4 linked regions of the Homo sapiens genome follow. The protein of the gene in region 1 interacts with the protein of each later gene in a pairwise test. Each region holds a gene or a part of one and is shown in the gene's direction. Other genes may lie near its edges. The genes, in order: ELAVL4, TTC33, ZNF639 and PHF20L1.

Region 1 (3,927 bases):
TCCATTCAGAGGAGTCACTTCTTTTCCCTGGGGAAGAGTGGATGAAGGGATAGCAATAGGCCTGGTCTGTTGCTGCAGGGGGTTCTCTCCACATGGAAGGAAACACTGGGAGTGGGAAATGAGTATCTCCCTGTTGGAAGCAGCCCTCTGTATTGCATGCTTCATTTGTTTACTTTCCTTTCCAGACTGGGATTCGTGAAGCAGAGACATTCCCAACACCCATCCCAGGGCCTGGCACATAGTAGATGTTTAGGAAGGGGAGGAATGAATGAACTCCCATCTTCTAATGCCAGTGTTTTTCTAAAGGAGCAATTTTCTGGGGCTAAAAAGGATGCCTTTTCCCTCTCATTTTATCCTCCTCATTGCACCCAACATGCCTTTATCGTGTTTTCCATGTCCTCTCCCTTTTCTGTATTATGGAGGACAGACAAGGAGTGAGGTATTGCTGGATGATTCAGGGAACATTCTTCCTCAGGTCATGCTGTTCTTCCCACCCTGCCCAGGCCAAGCCCTGTGTATGAACAGGTAAAGGGAGTTGTGGGTGCTGCATGGGAAGAGGCAGCCCTCAGCCCTCGTCCTGATGCCCCATCTGTGATGAATGACAACGCCTGCTTTACCCACCTTGGTGAGACTTGCTGAGAGCAGAATTGGGAAGTCACTTTGGAAAGTGGAAAGTACTTTGTCGGCATAAAGCAGTGGGATCTGTGGAAATGTGTTAGAGGACATTCATGTCAGTAAAGTGGTAAAAGATGGTCCAGACCCCACCAGGGTGGCAGAGGAGGGCAGTGCCTCTACAGGCATTCCCTGGTAGTGTTCCACATGTTTTTTTTGTTTGTTTTTTGGGGGTTTTTTTCCGGTGAAATTGGAGGGTATGTCCCAATGGGAGCTAGATTCCCAGGCTGGCCCACAAAAGCCTGTATGACTCATCACATAATAATATGTGTAAGTATCTACTAAGTTCTAGGTATGTGCTAGACAAATATATCAACTCAGTTCTTACAATAACCCATCAAAGGATAATTGACCCCCTTTTTACGAGCAAAGATGTTGAGACTTATCAAGATCAAATTACTTGCCTAAGGTCATGCAGCTAGTGAGTACTGGAGCTGACCCACAGTCAGGGATCATAAGCATGATGCTATAGCATCCTTCTGGTGGAGGATGGGAAGACTGTGAGCACCAGGGATGGGGAGAGCTGAGGAGCTTGGAGGGACTTCAGATCTTCCATAGAGATCATCTGTAAAGTCAGCTGCTTACAGTCACCTGGCTTTGAGCCACCCCTACCCAGAGAGAGGAGTGGCTTCTTCACTCCCAGCCCTTTCTGAGTTCCAGAAGGAGGTCAGTGCTGGCCTAGAGATGCCAGTCTTGTCTTCAGAGATTCTGGATGAATGAAGCAAACAGGATCCTGACTGAGGCAAGGGGGGTTCTCCAGGGCGCTGGCTCCAGTGTTGGAAGCCCTGTGACTCCAGGCCACTGGCCCAGGGGCATTAATATGCCATCAATGCTGACCCTGAAAATTGGCAATTTTTTGGAAATCTTTCAGCCTAACCAAGGGCCTGACCACTGTAGTCATTCAGTTAGAATTTAATACATGTATATGGAAAGTTGAAAATTTTAGGTACTAGGATGAACATTTGGATATTCAATGCAGGAAGATCTTTTTTCTGTCATTTTTGTTTATCCATACGCCACAGGTTTCATGGACAGGAAACTGAGAGAACAATAGACTTAAGGTTCCATATAGGTGAGAAATACTAAACAGGAATTAGACTTGGTAGAGAATGATTGATGTGCTGTTCACCTTTGGGATTTGTTGCTGCCTTTGGGGATTTAGGGTCTGTCTCTGGAGATGTGTTGCAGTAATTCTCCCTAGCTGAGATTCTACCTATGTTGGAATCAACTTTTGGGGAAATGGTTTTTGTTGTGTCACCAACTTTCAAGTGCCAGCTCCTCTTCCCTGGCAGGGTTCACCCTGTTCCCTCTGTACCCTAGCTCTGGCTGTGCAGAACTAATGGGAGTTAAGGTCATGACTATCCATTATGCATTTATTGGGTGCCAGGTACTGTGCTAAGCCCTTGATCTTCATCACCTCATTTGTCCTCGTGACAGAGGAAGGCTATTATCAGGCCACCATTACCTGACTCCACCACCACCTTTCTCACCACCAGTCTCAGCTCAGCTGTGTCTCCTTCCCGGCCCTTTTAACCTTTGATTAATCTCTCCCTCCTCTGTGTTTTAGTCACACTCATATGTATCCCTGGCATAACACACACATCTTGTGGCACTGTGATAATTGGTCTGTATGTTTACTCATCCATTCTTTTGTTCAACACATTTTATTGAGTGCCTCTTATGTGTTGTCTGTTGCCCTCTTTGGACTTGGAGTTCCTTTACAGCAAGAGACTATGCCTTGTTCTTGCTGTGTTGCCAACACATACCACTGTACCTGGCTCATAGTAGATCCTCAGGAAATATTTGCTAAGAGAAGGCCTCTATGTGAGGTCTAGTCCTAGAACAATCTTCTTTCAGTCCTTCCAGCCCCAGGCATTGGAAAATGGGAAATATGTCCCTTAGCTCTTAGCTTGGTGGAGAAACACAGCTGGGATTCTGGGTGCCTGACTCTCAGTGGTCCACCTTACTGGAGTTACAGTTAACTCCAAAGAGCCAATAATATCAACATCATTTCTCATGAGCTGTGGGTGTTTATTCATTTTTTCAGTAGGTGTTGAACACTTTATAGGTATCAGGCTATGTGCTGGGAGCTAGAGTCACAGAGTTGAATAGGACACACACACACACAAGACCTACAACCTAAAGAGATCATCAGCCTAGATGGAGAGGTGGTCAGTTAAGGTTGAAACGGGTTAAGTACCATGGTTCATTGAGAACACTGCTGGGGAGATTTTTAGGAGAAGGTGAGATTAGAGAAAGCTGCCTAGAGAAGATGTCATTTGATCTGAGCCCTGAAGAGGAGTAGGATTTGGACTTGAGGAAGTAGGTATAAAAAAAATGTCTGTATGAGCAAAGGTATAAAGGTGGTAGGTTGTGTTTTGAGGGAGCACAAATGTCATTCGGATAATTAATTTGTCAGTAATTGGCAAGGTGAAACAAGGGTGACCCTCATTGCCATGGGCATATCACTATGATGTTTTTATTTCCTTCTTCCACTTCTTCCTCTTACTCAAAAAATAGTTCTGCTATTGACACACTTTGTCCCTTAAAGAACAGGGGTGGGAGAACCTTCTGTGGAGTGAAGCCCTGTCCAGACAGTCACATGGGGTTCTTAGTCCTTCAGCCCACACTGCAAATGCACACACTGGGACCCCCTATATAAAGGCCCCTCTACATCTCAGCCATGTGCTGAGAAGGAGCCCACAGAGGCCTCCCAGCCCACCCGTGAGTTTCTAGAAGATGGAGATACTGAAGGCAGCTGCCTCACTCCATCAGCAGGAGGAGGCCAGGGAGGCAGATTAGTCACTCACATCATTTTATCTGTTGAGTCAACATCTATTTTTAGGCATGGAACCCATAAAGGGACCTGGCATGTCTGTCATGGAAAGGGGGAGAGTGCCATGGATGAGGGTTCTGCTCATCCTTCATCTTCTTTGCTAGACCCATTCTCTCCCCTGAAGGTCACAGAAGCAGGGTCCACATTACTGCTGGAGGTTTAGGTCTTAATGTCAAAGGTCTGGTTTAATGTGTTCAATTCCTTTTGCACACATGCTTTTGTGTGCACGCACACACACACACACACACACACACACACACACACACACACACACTCTCACCCCTACAGTCTTAATAGGTCTTATGAATCAGTTGTATGGATTAAATAGAACTTCCAACTGAAAAACGCTAAGGCATATAGGTCTCTTCCTGTCCAACGTTGTCAGATGTGCTCTGAAATGACTGTTTTCATCATCTATT
Region 2 (3,927 bases), on another chromosome or scaffold:
TCAAAATAATTTTTAAAAAAGCAAATAACACCAAATTTATATTCACTTACTTTGAGTAGTAAGTGAATTAACTTTTTGGGAAAATAATTGTATGTTAAATAATTGTATTGAAAGTGCTTTGTAAAACATAAAATGCTTTGGAAATATAAGTGTTGCTATGTGGTCTGAAGTGGTACTCATAGTTAGTGGGCTAGAGCCACTGGAGGAGGTCTTCATGAAGAACGGAGCATTTTAACTTGGTCTTAGAGGAGGAGCCTTTGAATAGATGAAGAGGAGTAGGAAGGCAATCTTAGATATGTGATATGGTTTGGCTCTGTGTCCCCACCCAAATCTCACCTTGAATTGTAATAATCCCCGTGTCAAGGATGGGACCAGGTGGAGATAATTGAATTATGGCGGCAGTTTCTGCCATGCTGGTCTCATGACACTGAGTTCTCACGAGATCTTATGGATTTATAAGGGGCTTCCCTGTTTGCTCAGCGCTCATTTCTCTCTCGTGCCTCCATGTGAAGAAGGATGTGTTTGCTTCCCCTTCTGCCATCCTTGTAAGTTTCCTGAGGCCTCCCCAGCCCTGTGGTACTGAGTCAATTAAACCTCTTTCCTTTATAAATTTCCTAGTCTTGGGCAGTTCTTTATTGCAGCGTGAGAGTGAACTAATACAGATGTGTGTGTGTGTATGTGTAGCAGGGGATCCATACTAACAAAGGCATGATATGTGGGTAGGGACTATAAAAACCCTGCTGAGTGGAGCACAGGTATGTGTAGGGAGTGGTAGAAAAAAGATTGGACAAACAGTCCAACCTTTTCCTTCTAATGCTGGAGGAAAGACATTTGCTACTATTAAGTCTTGCAGAATTTATTACTGCTACCTTTGTTAGAAAATTGTGAGTGGAAGGATTGTTATGAAGGAATACATCAATAAATTAATTTCCAAAGTTTTTCCTGTCACATCTACAATAACATTTGGAAATATTGTTTAGAGAGGCTTGAAATCACCCACAATATGCCTAAAGAAGTGCAAGTACTTTCTTTTTAGGTGATATAGTTACTGCTTTTAGAGGTTATATCATTAAAGCTTAGTAGATGATGGCACCACAGTACTAAATTTATTTAATGTTGTATATACTTTTATTATTATTATAAATAATCAGAAATGGGTGTTAAATTATACTAAGTATTGTTTAGTGGCATGTACTTTTTTCTCCCTTATCTGTTACATATGAACCCATTTCTAAGTTTTTCTGAGCATACACTACATGATCATGTGGATTTTGTACTTTAGTAAGTTGCTGGACTTAATTTGCTAATCCTTTATTTTGGATTTTTACATATATTTCATGGACTAGAAAGTAGTCCAAAAAACTGTTGAACTGAAAGTACATGACTGCTCCTCCTGAAAGCAGTCTAAGAGTAGAATGGTGTTTGCCCGGGGGTGGAGGAGGGGGCAATGAGGAGTTATTGTTTAATGGGTATGGAGTTTCAGTTTGGGAAGATGAAAAAGTTCTGGAGATGAATGGTGGTGGTGGTTGCACACAAAGGTGAATGAACTATATGTACTTAATGCTACTTAATGCCTCTGAACTGTACACTTAAATGGTTAAGATGGTAAATTTTATATTTTACTACAATAAAAATTTTTTTTTGAAAGTCCAAAAAAGCATATTGAAAATATGGCATTGATATAACTTTAACAACCACAGATATCGGGAGGCAATTCAGAAGTGGGATGAAGCACTACAGTTAACTCCAAATGATGCTACCCTATACGAGATGAAATCACAGGTAATAATTATGAAGAATTTCACTTTCCTTATGAAATTGTGCTATGTTTGTTCGGTGAGTGAGCAATGATGAAGCAAAATAGCATTTTCTCCCATTTTCTTTTACAAATACGGTTTCTTTGGGAAAAAATATTTCACCATTATTTATGGTTCTGTCTTATGCATAAAACTGGAAATTCATTTGCCTTTACAATGAAGTTAACTGTTATTTTAGCCTAACTATTGTAAGATAGGAATCGGTGGCTATCTTTTAAAGTCACTGGTGGGCAGGTGCCATGGCTCACGTCTGTAATCCCAGCAATTTGGGAGGCCGAGGTGGGTGGATCACTTGAGGTCAGAAGTTCGAGACCACCCTGACCAACATGGTGAAACCTTGCCTCTACTAAAAATACAAATATTAGCTGGGCGTGGTGGCACATGCCTGTAGTCCCAGCTACTTGAGAGGCTGAGGCAGGAGGACCACTTGAACGTGGGAGGCGGAGGTTGCAGTGAGCTGAGATAGTGCCACTGCACTCCAGCCTGGGTGACACAGCGAGACTCCATCTCAAAAAAATAAATAAGTAAATAAAAAATAAATAAAAAGTCACTGTTGAGCTCTTAGATGAAAAACATACGCTTTCCTTGTGATTAAATATAGTAGACTTAGCAAAATAGTTCAGTTTTCTTAAAAATGAGGATGGATTGGGTTCTAGATGAGATATTTCTAAAAATGGCTTAGTCCTTAGCAAAAGGTCAGCATAGATGCAATTTTATTAATAGCTTAAAAATAACATTTGTACTTTAAAAACATGTTTCTAATATTTTGTAGGAAAGTCTGTAAAGAAAACCTTTGAGCACTTGAATAGGTTATCCAAGTGATTTTAAAAGTCTCACACAGAGCATTAAACATATTTTTGGCAGGGAATTGTTGCAATTCAGCCTTAATCTGCACACCTAACAAATATTTTTCAAATCGTGATCTCAAATATAGGACACACATTTGTCACCTTTGACTTTAGTTTATCCAGGAAAAACCCAAATAAATTATGTCATCTGAATCAAGTGATATGAGGACCTTCATTTGTATTCCTTTTTCAATCTTAAATATGTATATATGAATGACAGGTTTGTGGCAAGCTTTATGAAGACTTGTTTAATTTGGAACCTGATAATAATGTTTGTATCACAAATCTTTTAAAGTGTTAATGGTCCTAAAGATTATAGATAAAATCCAGCCTCTTCCCACAGACCACAGTGGAGGGTACTAGAACTCTCTGGTAACCCTAACTCTCCCTAACCCTAACCCTAACCCTAACCCTACCTTCCTAGTATGTATGGTTTGAAATGCCCAGTAGTGAGAAGGCCTAGGGAATGTTTTAAATACTTTTTATAACATAAAGATGTTCATTAGGGACGGGATGGCTGGTTGAACAAATTAATTCACCTAGTTTAATGGCAATACCTGGGGTTCCCTGAAAACCACATTGTAAATAGAATAAATGGAAGTGGAATTGGGAGTTCAAAATACCTCTGAGCCACCATAGTTAGGATATGACCACTTGGTTTTGACCAGATGGACATAAGATTCAATAACTGGAAAGGGAATCGTTTACATTTTCATAGTTATATAAGGGGTGAAAAGAGAACTATAATTTCTTACCCTGAATGGCAGAGTAAGGGGTAAAAATCACCGAAATGCTATTTTTACTGGACTAAAAATATATCTTAAAAAATGAAAAGGGTTTTTTATGTAGTTGCTAGTTTATGAATATTACTGACAGATTTTTTGGTCTTTTTTTGCCTATAGGTGCTAATGTCTCTTCATGAAATGTTCCCAGCAGTACATGCAGCAGAAATGGCCGTCCAGCAAAATCCACATTCATGGGAGTCTTGGCAGACTTTGGGACGTGCTCAACTTGGTTTAGGAGAGATAATCCTGGTGAGGAAGTCAGATTATTATAATGCAGAAATTTTAAGTATATTTTGACTTTTTTTTTTTTTTGAGATGGAGTCTTGATGTCACCCAGGGTACAGTGCAGTGGTGCAATCTCAGCTCACGGCAACCTCCGCCTCCTGGGTTCAAGCGATTCTCCTGTCTCAGCCTCCTGTGTAGCTGGGACTATAGGCATGCGCCACCATGCCTGGCTAATGTTTTTGTATTTTTAGT
Region 3 (3,927 bases), on another chromosome or scaffold:
GTACTAAAAATACAAAAAATTAGCCGGGCGCCTGTTGTCCCAGCTACTTGGGAGGCTGAGGCAGGAGAATGGCATGAACCCGGGAGGCGGAGCTTGCAGTGAGCCAAGATAGCGCCACTGCACTCCAGCCTGGGCGAAAGAGCGAGACTCTGTCCGAAAAAAAAGTAAAAATAAAATAAACTGAAAAAGCACTATCTCATTCCCTGCTGTATTATATCACTTCAGTGCTGATATACCCAGAACTTAGTGAAGCAGCAAAAATAGTATGTGCACCTCAGCTAGAACACCTGTCATGTGTATCACCTTGGTGTTAAGAGCATTATAGGCCGGGCGCGGTGCCTCGTGCCTGTAATCCCAGCACTTTGGGAGGCTGAGGTGGGCGGATCACTTGAGGTCAGGAGTTCAAGACCAGCCTGGCTAACATAGTAAACCCCCGTCTCTACTAAAAATACAAAAATTAGCTGGGTGTGCTGGCGGGTACCTGTAATCCCAGCCTCCTGCTGGCGGGCGCCCGTAATCCCGGCCACTCAGGAGGCTGAAGCAGGAGAATCGCTTGAGCTGGGGAGGCAGAGGTTGCAATGAGCCAAGATCGTGCCACTGCACTCCAGCCTGGGTGACAGAGCAAGACTCCGTTTCAAATAAATAAATAGATTAATAAATAAAGTTGGGTAAACCTTTATTCAAATCCCAACCCCAGCATTTACTGAGTATCTAGCTTTGACTTTACTGTGCCTCAGTTTCCTCAATAACAGGAACTATAATTTTGAGAGGGTGATGTGAATTTTGCATCTCATACGATTACATAGGATTAAATGAGATAAAGTATGTTCACAGCCTGGTACATAATTGGTGGTCAGTAAATTATTATTATCACTTTTACTTTTTTCTTTTTTTGTTTTGTTTTGATTTTTTGTTTTTGAGAGAGAGTCTTGCTCTGTTGCCCAGGCTGGAGTGCAGTGGCACGATGTCAGCTCACTGTAGCCCTCCGCCTCCCAGGTTCAAGCCATTCTCCTGCCTCAGCCTCTTGAGTAACTGGGATTGCAGGTGCGCACCATCACACCCGGCTGATTTTTGTATTTTTAGCAGAGACGGGATTTCACCATATTGGCCAGGCTGGTCTCGATCTTTTATTTCTTAAATAAATAATCTATAAGGGCTGTAACAGTTTAAAGTTTATAATTTGGGCCAGGCAAGGTGACTCACGCCTGTAATCCCAGCACTTTGGGAGGCCCAGGTGGGTGGATCACCTGAGGTCAGGAGTTTGAGACCAGCCTGGCCAACATGGTGAAACCCCGTCTCTGCTAAAAATAGAAAAATTAGCCCGGTGTGGTGCCACATGCCTGTAATCCCAGCTACTTGGGAGGCTGAGGCAGGAGAATCGCTTTAACCCAGGAGGCAGAGGTTGCAGTGAGCTGAGATCGCGCCATTGCACTCCAGCCTGGGTAACAAGAGCAAAACTCGGTCTCAAAAACAAAAAGTTTATAATTTGGTTTGCTTTCATTATGCTTGCTTTCCTTATGGATGAATAAATTAATTCAGATTCATAGTCCTATTTTGGTGTCAAAAGATTTAACTATAGGTCAGGCATGAGACTGTCTCAAAAAAAAAGAACTATAGAAGGTAAATCATTTCAAAGAAATGTGGAAATTTGCATATAATCACATATTTATCAAGATATACAGTTTTTAGTATGTAGTACATTGTTTTCAAAATAATATATCTTAATTAGTTCTGTATAACTTTCCAATTGATTAAAGATCTGGTGCCATTGTATTATTCAGTACCAGAAATGAGCTGTATTTTTGCTTAATAACTTCTTTCATGTTTTACTTACAGGCATTTTTTACTGTCTACAGAAACTTATTGTAATTCATTTTTCCTCACTCCAGTAGTAAGAATTATACCAAGTAAGTGGACTGTATTGAAACTAATTAATTTTGTAACAGTTAATGAGAATTTAATTGGATAGTGGTTGCTGCATGTGTTGTGTTCTCAGTGGAACGTTGAATGTGACCTCATAAATAGGAAAATGATTTTTTTCTTGAAAATTATTTATATTCTGATCTGTGTGATGAGTACTTTTTTCTGGAAGCCAGGAGGCCGATACATATTTGTGACAATATTTTTTTAAAGGAAATGTCTCCGCCTTTAGCTTGAAAACTACCTAAAAATACTTCCAATGGTAGGAAATGTGCCTATAAAACTCCTAGTATGGTGCCATAGGCACAGTGTTTCTTTTTTTATATATACACAAAATAAAATGACTTAAACATGTGGTTTATTGTAATTATCCAGTTCTCACAATTTATATCAACATTTGAAAAAGAATTTTTTAACCTCCGTAAGAAAGAAAACAGAAATCAGTTTCTGCCTTGAAACCTGACTGGAAAACAATCTGAAATACAAACAGAGGCATCATTTAACACTTTTCTTATACCATAGATTTTCAGGTGGCTCACATATTTCATATTGCCAATAAATTCTTCAGTTAGAATTTTTATAACGTCATTAACAGTTGTTATTTGTGACATATTTGTTAATTTTTTCTCGTTTTTTAGATTGAAAAGATATGAATGAGTATCCTAAAAAAAGAAAAAGGAAGACTCTACACCCTTCTCGTTATTCAGGTCAGTGTATAATTATTTTAAAGTTGGGTATGGATTAATTCCCACAAAATTATATTCTCATCCATTTTCTCCTAAGTGATCAGATAAGACTTAAATATCTGGGTCAATATTTAGGTAAAACAACGGTTTAAATACATTATCTGAATATATATTCCTTATTGTCTACCATGTGCTAGGCACACATAAGAACTTTACAGACATTATATTATTCCTCACAGCTCTATGGGTTATAAATATTTAAAATTAGATAGCCAAGGTTATTTACTTATATAACATAATTGGGATTTGCATGTCTGATACCTAAGCTGTGCTTAAGACCCAATAATGACAACCTTGGTAGAAAATATTTTACATTATTGGGGAAAAAAGACTTTATCCTCTTTATTACTTTAGGAAATGTAAACTTTCATGCTGAATGTGTAATTTTTTTTTTTTTTTTTTTGAGACAGAGTCTCACTCTCTAGCCCAGGCTGGAGTGCCATGGTGTGATGTCAGCTCACTGCAACCTCTGCTTTCTGGGTTCAAGTGATTCTCCTGCCTCAGCCTCCCAAGTAGCTGGGATTACAGGCGTGTACCGCCACACCTGGCTAATTTTTTGTAGTGTTAAAGTAGAGATGGGGTTTCACCATGCTGCCCAGGCTGGATGACTGTGTAATTTTAGATCCTTTCATTGAGGTTGGCTCTGCTGTGTTGGCAGTATAAGAAAAGGGGTCTTTGTGGCCATCTCTAATACACCTCGCATACATTTACTTGGGACCATCTCAGTCTTACCTATTAGTCTACCCAGCCTACACATTCTTCATATCTGAAGAAATTAACCCTAGTATACTGCTTACTGGCCCTTCCTAGACAACACTTGAAATGACTATATTCAGAAGCCCTAAGTGGTCCTTACCATTTCCCCTATGTAACAACCTTTCTCTGCATGACATGGCACACCTTCCTGGTGTTTATTTCACTGTTTTGTGCAGTTAATACAGTGTTTATCATATATTTTTATTTTGTGTGATTCTGAGTATAAAACAAATGTATCCTTGTATATTTCAAAGTTGTTATGTTTTAGAGTATGTAATTTGTGGTTCTTTCAAAGTCCTATGTCAATATTGGATCTGAAATATAAAAGCTTTAAAAGTTGAAAATGTATAATATTTTCATTACAGATACTATAATTAACATTAAGAACATTTGTATAAGTTAGATAACGGGAAGTTTCTCATTAAATATGTATGTTTACTGTACTTGAAATATTTTTCATTTTATGTTCAGATTCCTCTGGAATAAGCAGAATTGCAGATGGATT
Region 4 (3,927 bases), on another chromosome or scaffold:
TAAGCATAAGTTTAATGCTTGGGAGTTATTCAAACTAGATTTGTGGAGAATATGATAAATTTGCTTGCTAACACCATAAAACTGGTAATCTTTGCCATGCAAGTATATGTGAGATACACTAATTCCTTTCAATGATATAATTTCAAATTAATTTTTATTTATTTATTTATTGAGGCAAGATCTTGCTCTGTTGCCTAGGCTGAAATACTGGTGTGATCGTAGTTCATTGCAGCCTCAAACTCCTTGGCTCAAGCAATCCTCTTGCCTCAGCCTCCTGAGTAGCTAAGACTACCAGCACAGGTCATCATGCCTAGCAAATTATTTTTGCTTTTGTAGAGATGAGGGCTTGCTTTGTTGTACAGGCTGGTTTCAAACTCCTAACTTAAAGTGATCCTCTCACCACGGCCTCCCAAAGTGCTGGGACTAGAGGTGTGAGCCGCTGTGCCCGGCCCATTTAATACTGTTTATATGCTGCAACAGTGTTTGAAACTGTTTTACCCACATTCCAATGAACTTGAGAAAGCCCAAAAGAAAATTTGGATTTAAGCCAGCAAGATTATGGATGGGTGAAATTTTCCTCTTTAGGTTCTTTTAAAACAAGTTATACTGTTCATACTAGATTTTCCATATCTAGTTGATTTACTAGCTCCATGAATATTTTCAGATATTTCTTTATTATCTATTTCTGCTGACCTTCCTTCCGTATGTCCCTGTGACTTCAAAGAGAAGAAAACTTTATTTTTCTATAAAACATTAATCAACAACAAAACATTCAAAAACATTGAATGAAGAAAAAAGTAAGCAAGATTAGAAGCTGATAGAGGAAACACTAAATCATGTGAAAAATGTAGAGTATAAATAGCGTGAATTTTTAAAGTTCAAATCTGTTCAACTTCGGTCCCATCTGATTAAGTCTGAAAAGAAAATATTCTCTCTCTGACTCTCTCCTTAGTTCTTCTACAAACATTCTGGAGTGGCTATATTATATATCAGGCCTCATTCTAATAACTGGGGATGTAGCATTCAACAATGCAAAGTTCTTGCTGTCATGGATTCTGATATTCTAGTAAGAGAAGACAGATGATAAGCAAGTGAAGAGATAACTCAGAATGTGGCTAGGGGATAGGATGTGAGGTAGGAAGGTGCTCTGCTGATTAGCCTCTGTCAGGAGCTCACACAGCATTATACGATGTTCTGTTTCTCATGATGACTCAGTTTTCCTAACATTTCTCCATCCAAACTACTGCAAAAATTTTAGTGTTCCATCATCATTTACTTTCCATTGTTATAAATAAAGATTCCCCCGTGTCTGTCTCAATTTTCTTTTCCTCAGTAACCTGAGCAAAATGGTAGGCTTTGGCATTGTCACTATTATACACACACGCCTAAAACCTGACATGTAAATTGAGTTGTATGTAGTAGTCATCCATATAGTCTTGTTTCTAGGATATGCTTAATCTAAAAATATATTTTTACCAAGACGAAATTAATACATTTTAAAAATCCCTTGGGGAACTCACGGTTCCGGTTTTAAGAAATACTGGTAAAGTCATTAAGAACACAGGCTTGAGAATCAGGCATTCCTGGTATTCAGTTGGTTTTCCCACTCCATGGCTGCGTTTCTCAAGCAAGTTATATATCCTGTGTTTAAAGTGCTTAATATAGCACTGTGTGCTTACTAAGTGCTATAGTAGTTGATGCTGCTGATACTGTCAATAATGCTATTGTTGATTTTAGACCCTAGGCAAGCTCCTTTACCTCTCTGAAGTTGTTTATAGTATGAATAATAAAACCCGTCCTCTTTACAATTCAGAGTTTTTTTTTTTAAGTGATTTTTCAAAAAGCACTTTATTAATCCAAAAAAGAAAGAAGAAAAAGAATGAAGAATCAGTGGTGTGCTAGAGCCAGCTTGTGCTGGCTAATGGGGGCTTACTACACACACCTGTCCCCAGGTCCACGGACAGTGGTGTCACACTGATACTATGAAATCACAAGGGGACAACACAGGGTTTTTATGAGGGTCAGAAGGGATAATGTTTGTGAAAGTGTATGGAAACTGTGCAAATTTATTGACATCAGCCTTAGCCATAAATTCTGTAAGCATGAAGTCTAAAAGACACTTTGAGTTACTTATAATAGTGTATACTATAAGATATAAAGCAGTCATAATTACCTAAGCTTCAAAAATCTTTTGTTTCCATGTCCAGAGACAAGTACAGTACAGTATTCTTATTTGTTTGCTCCCCCTTTTTAAAATGTTTAATAGCTTATGTTCACTTCTCATAGCTCCTTTCTTTATGAAAAATAACATGAAAATAGAAAAGTTGTTCTAAGTATACTTTTTGTATATATTCTAGACTTATCAGATGTAGACTTCCTAGATGATTCTTCAACGGAGAGTTTGCTTCTGAGTGGGGATGAATACAATCAGGACTTTGATTCAACCAATTTTGAGGAATCTCAGGATGAGGATGATGCTCTTAATGAAATTGTGCGATGTATTTGTGAGATGGATGAGGAGAATGGCTTCATGATCCAGGTAATTGGTTAACCTCTCTTCCCTATAATGAGTTAGTTGTTTCAGGTGCTCAGCAAATGCATCACGGTGTTTTATTTCTTTACTGACTGTACTACTGAAGATAGTGGTTTCTAACTTACTGTGTGGAAAATACCCATAGTAATGATTAGGAGATTTCCTCATTAAGTAAAGTAGACAATGTTCTTATTTTAGCATCTCTCTTCCTTTTCTAGGGTATGTAGTTCAGTGCCTTCAAACTGAAACTCTTTAGAGTGATTAGGGTGGTAAACCCTCACACGAAAGGGCAGGCTACAGCAACCTTTCTCTTCCTCATCTGCATTCATGTGAATTATTATAATAATAATTTATAGTCACCCTTCACTTGTCAGTGATTAAAACATAAAAATGTCCAGTATTCTTAAAGGAAAAATTTTGTTGCAGGAGTTAACAACTTCTTCTTGTAGGAAAGATATCTTTAAGATAAAAGGAAAGCATAACCCAAATTTTGTGATGCCAGAAGATTTGGAGATGTTAGTTGAGAGCATGAAGAAAGAGTAATCTTTTTTCCTCCCATTTTTCTGTGGTTTTATGGAGGGAACTATGAATTTATAACTTCACCACAGAAGTAGTACTTTAAGAGATCATTGGTATAGACACTGCTACCAACTTTTTTTTCCCCTAATTTCCGCATTTTAATAAACTATTTTAAGAGTTTTATGATATGATTGCCTAAATATCAGTGAGAATTAAATTAGAGAAATTATGACTTAAGTACTTGATCAAAGCATATTCTAATAGGTGCAACAAAAGAAAGTTCGTGAAGTAGTTGACCATTTCAAAGATAAAATTCATCTTAAGTCATGGCTTGATTTTGTTGTGTCAAATAAGTATGAAACTGATAGTGGCAGTAAGAAGCCAAGCCAGCCAATTCAAAGAAAGGGCATGTATCCTTATTCCTAGCTTATTCCTAGTGAGGATCGGGTGACTGTAATACTCCTCTGTTTTCTGCAGTGTGAAGAGTGCTTGTGTTGGCAACACAGCGTGTGCATGGGGCTGCTGGAGGAGAGCATTCCAGAGCAGTACATCTGCTATATCTGCCGGGACCCACCAGGTAAGGCTTTCTGTGCCGTGCTGATTGCCAGGATGCCTCTATGTCTCCTCCAGGATTCCAGAGTGTATCAGCTGTGTTCACCACCACTACAGCAAGTTCTCACATGATGTCATTGATAGGTTCTTGGAAACTGTGACTCCAAATGAAACAGCATGCTATATGCCATAGGAACTTAACTTGTATGTATCAATTAGCTTATAGTACAATTCATTTCATTATTCAGTGTGCCAGTTTCCAAGAACCTATTGATTACCCTTAGTGAGGACTCACTGTACTTCTTGGTCAATTAGACTCAACT

The links.
Region 2: the proteins of ELAVL4 (region 1) and TTC33 interact in binary tests that used the Homo sapiens proteins (3 or more experiments, as listed by UniProt).
Region 3: the proteins of ELAVL4 (region 1) and ZNF639 interact in binary tests that used the Homo sapiens proteins (3 or more experiments, as listed by UniProt).
Region 4: the proteins of ELAVL4 (region 1) and PHF20L1 interact in a two-hybrid assay, tested with the Homo sapiens proteins (one large-scale study listed by BioGRID and IntAct).

What each region holds. Positions count from the first base shown.
Region 1 is NC_000001.11:50,188,783-50,192,709, forward strand, and holds part of ELAVL4 (ELAV-like protein 4), read left to right. Parts: intron 1-3,927. UniProt on the Homo sapiens protein: RNA-binding protein that is involved in the post-transcriptional regulation of mRNAs. Plays a role in the regulation of mRNA stability, alternative splicing and translation.
Region 2 is NC_000005.10:40,728,117-40,732,043, reverse strand, and holds part of TTC33 (tetratricopeptide repeat protein 33), read left to right. Parts: intron 1-1,700; coding exon 1,701-1,782; intron 1,783-3,567; coding exon 3,568-3,699; intron 3,700-3,927.
Region 3 is NC_000003.12:179,325,725-179,329,651, forward strand, and holds part of ZNF639 (zinc finger protein 639), read left to right. Parts: intron 1-1,240; exon of another isoform or gene 1,241-1,620; intron 1,621-1,836; 5' UTR 1,837-1,907; intron 1,908-2,558; 5' UTR 2,559-2,569; coding exon 2,570-2,627; intron 2,628-3,893; coding exon 3,894-3,927. UniProt on the Homo sapiens protein: Binds DNA and may function as a transcriptional repressor.
Region 4 is NC_000008.11:132,834,183-132,838,109, forward strand, and holds part of PHF20L1 (PHD finger protein 20-like protein 1), read left to right. Parts: intron 1-2,357; coding exon 2,358-2,539; intron 2,540-3,529; coding exon 3,530-3,629; intron 3,630-3,927.